Linked DNA regions of Homo sapiens: region 2 is linked to region 1. Evidence: fine-mapped expression QTL. A gene starts in region 1. The other region holds a variant in brackets. All regions are shown on one strand. Distances are between the middles of the regions.

Region 1 (2,913 bases):
AGTTCCATAGAAGAAAAATAATTATTATAGTAAAAATAATTGTAGTAATCCTAATCCTTGCTAAAACCAACTTTAATACTTGTGATGCTTCTGTACTCTATTTCTATAAAATAATGTGTGAGATTCTATTACATTTCCATAAAATGTACAACATATCATATGGATTATATGTTCTCATACAATCTCAAATGTGTATGTGTACACACAGTGAAATCTTACCTACTAGTATTGCTTACAGATACTTTCAGGTGTCTGTTAGAATAATTCTTTGCACCTCTCACTAACACTGCTTTTACTTACATTTTTTCAGATAAATAAAACACTAAGAGCTCATTGTTCATGATGCTGATCATTACATTTTAATATAAAATAGCGATGCAACTTTACAACACAATAGTTTTCCCCTGTAGCCTAGCTCAGCCTCTTGTATTGTCATGATTATTACCGAAGGCTTTTATTTACTTACTGTTTGCACTTCTAAAAAATGCAAACAAATTGCAGAAAAAGACTCCTATTTGAAAACTCACATTCAATCAGCAAAATCACACTCATCCAAATTAACTCGCCTCCTCTTGCTTTAAAGGTTGTAATCACTGTGCATATTACAACATGTATGTGCAGGCAAACAATAGCTAAAGTACAGTTACAGTTGTCATATTGTGTAAACCAAGACACTAGGCAAACTTGTGAAAAGAATACACACTGCCAAGCGAAGAATATGAAAATGCAAACCACAGCATTCCCCAATAAACAATTTTCTGGTCGTCTTGGGGGAGAACATCGCCTGGGGGGAGATGTTGAAATGGAGCCACGAGGCTGGACAGCCTCCTGGAGACACTTTTTTTTTTTTTTTTTGCCTCAAATATTTGACCATTTTTAAATATCATGATTTTTTTCTTTCTGATCCCACATTTTGACGTGTCAAAGCTTAGAGCAGGAAGTAGGAATCCACACTTTCACGGAGGGGGACCAGCCTGCCATGTCGTCCCCAGGCTCACAGCAGCGGCGGCTACTCTGCTGGTGGTTTGGTGGCAGGTGGAGATGGTGACGGCGCATTGGAAACCGTAAGGCATGACAACGGGAGGCCCGCGGGGTGTTTCAGGCGCGTTGACGCAGGTGCATGGCTGGCAGGCGGCCTCTACAGAAGGAGGGAGCGCAATTCACAGCCTCTTGACGTAGTTTCCGGGGAAAGTACCAAAGAATTTGGTTCTTCTTGAGGTCCCTGAAAATAGAAGCGAGTCATGAAAGGGGGGTGACAACGATATCAGTTCATACACATGGGCTTGAATACTTCCCATTTACAAGGCCTCGGAAGACAGCAAGCCCCGAGGGGTTTGGAAAAGAAGGCAGGCAACTCACATGAAGCCCATAGGCAGACAAAATAAGCAGTGTTAGCTGGTTGCCTGACGCTCTCACTGCCCCTCCGGCATAAATGCTGCGCTGCCATCGCGGCAGGCTAAACAGAAATGCTGAGCCTCCCAAGCTAAAGGGAAAGTCAGCCCTGCTGAGGAGGGGGGCGGAGGAGCTCAGTCACTGAGGCTGCCACACCAGAGTCGGGGGTGAGGGATCAAGGCGAGGCTGACAGGTGACAGGGTGAGTGGAAAATCCTAAGAGCAAAGCTTCTCAGGGACCAGCAACCCGCGCAACACAGGTGCGACATGAAGACATCATCTGTGGCAGGCTGTCGCTGTTCCAACAGTTTTATCATCTTACAGAAGATCATGGTCAGTGCCACATCATTTATTTAAAAACAGCACTGCCAGAGTCCTTCATCGAGTATACAATTTTTCAACAATTTACAAATCATTAATGAAAAAAAGGATTAAGCACTATTTGTGTGTGGGAGTTCTATCAGTGGCATGATTTTTAACATGGTGTGTGTTTAACCACACGCACAAATGGCTATCATAATTATGTTCGCCTCTGGTTTCAAATAATGTAATTCCTTGGACACTTCTTGTAAAAGTTGGTGCACTAAATTGCTAAATTCTTCTTTAGGCAGCGCAGATGGACCGGATAAGGGTCTCTCAAGCTTCATCTGTCTCCTATATCCTGGCACTTACTGCCTTGGTTTGATGGCTGTTTTTCTTTTTCCTTGGCTAGGCAAGCCATTTTACGTTTCTCCTCCCTCCTCCTCCTCCCTCCTCCTCCTCCTCCTTGTTTTTGAGATGGAGTTTCGCTCTTGTCGCCCAGGCTGGAGTGCAGTGGCATGATCTCGGCTCACTGCAACCTCTGCCTCTTGGGTTCAAGCAATTCTCCTGCCTTAGCCTCCTGAGTGGCTGGGATTACAGGCACCTGCCACCAAGCCCAGCTGATTATTGTACTTTTGGTAGATACGGGGTTTCACCATGTTGACCAGGCTGGCCTCGAACTCCTGGCCTCAGGTAATCCACCCGCCTCGGCCTCCCAAAGTGCTAGAATTACAGGCATGAGCCACCGCACCCGGCCTTTTTTTCTTCTTTTAATGGAAATAAAATCAGAGGCTTGTGGCCGCACCAGGGCCTCAATTCTTTCATGATTTTGCCACCGATGGATGTCTAGAGTGAGCCCTCCTCTCCTCTCACCTTTCCTCTCTTCCATTCTCTGCCCTGCAGCCTGTGTTTCCTTTTCACCTCTTTCTGTGGCCCAGTGTAAAATACTTTTGTCTACAAATGTTTTCCCAGAAGACCTCTCGTCTTTTTTTTTAGGATGGTAAAGATGAAGTTGCCTTTTAAGTGGGAAGAATGGAACGTCTCTCTGCTTCCACCACAAACTAAAGTTAAGGTGAGTCACTGAATGTTCGGGCATCTACGTCAGACCTAGGAAACGGGAGAGCTGTTCACTTAATCTCACTCCCTCTGAAATTAGATTCTCACTGTGGACAACTAACATTTTCCACAGCACAGAGCGTTGATATTTCTCTTCTGGGGACCA
Region 2 (2,913 bases), 230 kb after region 1:
TCCAACGGTCCAACAACAAGTGGAAAATACTGTTGAAAAATAAAAATCCCCAATCCGCACTGGAAATAGTAGATGTTCAGTTAAAGGCCTGACAGTGACAGCACGTGCAGGTAGGAAAAATAAACTATGCGTGCTTGCAGAATATTGGATGGGAGCTATAACCCAGAATGGTAATTATTTTACTAAGCCTACCCAGGTCAGAATTCAGTGCCTATGTGTTTGTTTGTTTGTTTGTTTTTGAGATGGAGTCTCGCTCTGTCGTCCAGGCTGGAGTGCAATGGCACAATCTTGGCTCACTGCAATCTCCGCCTCCTGGGTTCAAGCGATTCTCCTGCCTCAGCCTCCCGAGTAGCTGGGATTACAGGTGTCCGCCACCACACCAGGCTAATTTTTTGTATTTTTAGTAGAAACGGAGTTTCACCATGTTAGCCAGGATGGTCTCCATCTCCTGACCTTGTGATCCACCTGCCTTGCCCTCCCAAAGTGCTGGGATTACAGGCATGAGCCACCGTGCCCAGCAGCCTATATTTTTAAAAGTCAGACTCTGGCATCCTAATTGCCAGATCATTGCCTTGAACTGAGAACATTCTTCTGGACATTTCCTGCATCAAAGGAAGACTATTTGAAACATTCCTTGTGAGAGGTCAGGAGATCGAGACCATCCTGGCTAACACGGTGAAACCCTATCTCTACTAAAAATACAAAAAATTAGCTGGGCCTGGTGGTGGGCGCCTGTAGTCCCAGCTACTTGGGAGGCTGAGGCAGGAGAATGGCATGAACCCAGGAGGCGGAGGTTGCAGTGAGCCGAGATCGTGCCACTGCACTCCAGCCTGGGTGACAGAGCGAGACTCTGTCTCAAAAAAAAAAAAGAAAAGAAACATTCCTTGTGAGGTTTAAAGTAGCATGACAAATCATTCCACAACCAACTTTCCTATAGGCATAAAGGTAGATTTTAAAAAATTTATCTGAGAGCTGATACCTGACCTGCATCTTGAAGGACCCATTATTCTCTTGGCATGTGGACTCTTTCCTATATCTTTCCTTCATTAAAGACATGGTTTGCTTCCAACAATTGGAAGCAAACTCAAGTTGTGTTTCAATTTTTGGTAACACATGAGAAAGTCTTATCACAGGATCAGGATTGGCTGCATAGGAGAGAAAGCTCAAATAACAGGGCTTACAAGAGACAGAGCTATATTTTTCTCTCACTTGAAGGATTGAGAAATAAGGAGTTCTAGGCTAGTAGAAAATTGGCCTCATGATTATTAGGACTCTAGCTCCTACCCTCTGTTCTGTCATCTTTTGAAACTGGTTTCTATCCTCAAGAATCCTCGTGGTCCAGAATGGCTACTTGTGCTCCAGCCATCAGGTCCATGTTCCAGGCAAGAAGAGGAGAGGGAGAGCCAAGGGGCACATTTTCCGCTTGAGTTGGCCTCTTTGAAGGAGCTTTTCCCCACCTCCCACCCAGCACTTCTGCTGA[T/G]ATCTCATTGCATCCTGAGTGATAAGTAAGTCTCAAAAACGTGGTCTTTTCAGCCGGACGCCTTTTGGTCCCAGGTAAACCAGTGTTCTACTACTGAGAAACAAATTGATAATAGGGAGTGGATAGACAACAAGCTGCCTCTGCCAGCTCATGTCAGCCTGGGTACAAAGAAAGTACTATCTCATTTCTGGACATTGTCAGTGAGCCTTTATTCCTGGCTGGTCACCTGTCAGTGCAGGGATCACCCAGGCTGACTCGGTGGGTTGCGGAAGCACCCTTCCTTCATTCCTGCCTGGGGGTGTCCTTGCCTATCCAGCCACTGTGCTTAACTCCTCAGCACAGACTCAAAGCATTGCCATCTCTCCTTATACTGGTTTCATATCAATATCTCAAAGTATACTTGTTCATTCACTGTGGAACAAATAAATAAATGGTGTGGATTCAAATATTCTGCAATTTGTTAGCTGTGTGATATGCAAATTGCCTAACCTCTTTGTGCTTCTGTTTCCTCATAAGAAAGGATGATAATATTATCTAATTCTGAGGGCGGTTGTGGCAATTAAATCCATTAATTAGCATAAAAGGGTATTAGGTATTATCTTGAATTTTGTATCTTTGATTTATGGTGCGGCACTGGGTGGGCACGGACCTCCGGGACCTTCCAATACCGTGGGAAACATCAGCTGGACGTGGACCAGAGCGTCAAAAAGCAACACAAATGCATGTGTTCATCAAAAGAATGGTCCAGACGGTGAGGGCCGTGGGCTTCAGCAAAGGAGAAACAGGCACTAGTGTCATCAGTGGGAACTTATCGCAGGCTCCCTGCAACCTCACCTGGACAGCGCGGCGCTGTGTGAACAGCCAGCAGGAGGCCTTTTCGCTTCTGCCTCCTGCTTTCCTTCCCGGCTGATGTCCTCCCCTCCCCTTTAATTTAAATTGGCACCAGTTTCCTATTCTCTCGGCAGCCCTAGTTCTTTCCCTCATTTAACCTTTTCATAGAATCTAGTGGGGACTTTATCGACCAGATGCCAAGGGGCTGCCAGGGCAGGGCTGGCCTTCAGAGGAGGGGCATGGTGTGCCCAAGTCCTGCAGTTGGGGAAGGAGTAGGGAGCTGAGACCACAGAGGGACAGGGACAGAGGCTAGGGAGCAGCGTGCGCGGACACCTTGCCTGCGGGGAAGGCCTACGGAGGCCTTGCAGACAGCGTCTCAGCCGACACACAGGGCCCTTTAAGAAAAGAGGCACCGTGTTCTTTAAGAGTTCTGTAGCAGAGTCCTGGCAGTCCCGGGACTTCACACGCTGCACATTTACTTGTGCTTTTATTTACTTAATCTCTGTCTGTCCCGCGAGATTATAAACTGCAGGACGGCAGAGATCATTTCTGTTTTGTTTTGACCCTGCTTCCAGGGCTCAGTATCGTACCTGGGCTGTGGA

Alleles and levels. Positions count from the first base shown, and alleles are read on the strand shown. Sizes are in standard deviations (SD) of each study's normalised expression.
As copies of G replace T in region 2, the expression in esophagus mucosa of the gene that starts at base 1,459 in region 1 goes down (small effect, 0.25 SD a copy in GTEx).

What was found. PIP is the estimated chance that this variant, and not a neighbour inherited with it, causes the effect.
Region 2: its variant is fine-mapped to the expression of SORBS2-AS1 in esophagus mucosa (GTEx, PIP 0.95).

What each region holds. Positions count from the first base shown.
Region 1 is chr4:185,586,467-185,589,379 of GRCh38, forward strand. SORBS2-AS1 (SORBS2 antisense RNA 1) reads left to right here and starts at 1,459. Exons shown (of 4, transcript NR_186082.1): 1 at 1,459-1,724; 2 at 2,688-2,763. It overlaps SORBS2 (sorbin and SH3 domain containing 2), which reads right to left. Exons shown (of 27, transcript NM_001395207.1): 27 at 1-1,222. The coding sequence ends at 1,161. RefSeq lists enhancers at 556-1,755, 1,034-1,113.
Region 2 is chr4:185,817,969-185,820,881 of GRCh38, forward strand. It overlaps a transcript of SORBS2 not described here. Among named protein-coding and RNA genes, the nearest start is that of SORBS2, 7.2 kb to the left of the region's middle. The variant T/G (reference allele first, on the strand shown) is at 1,481.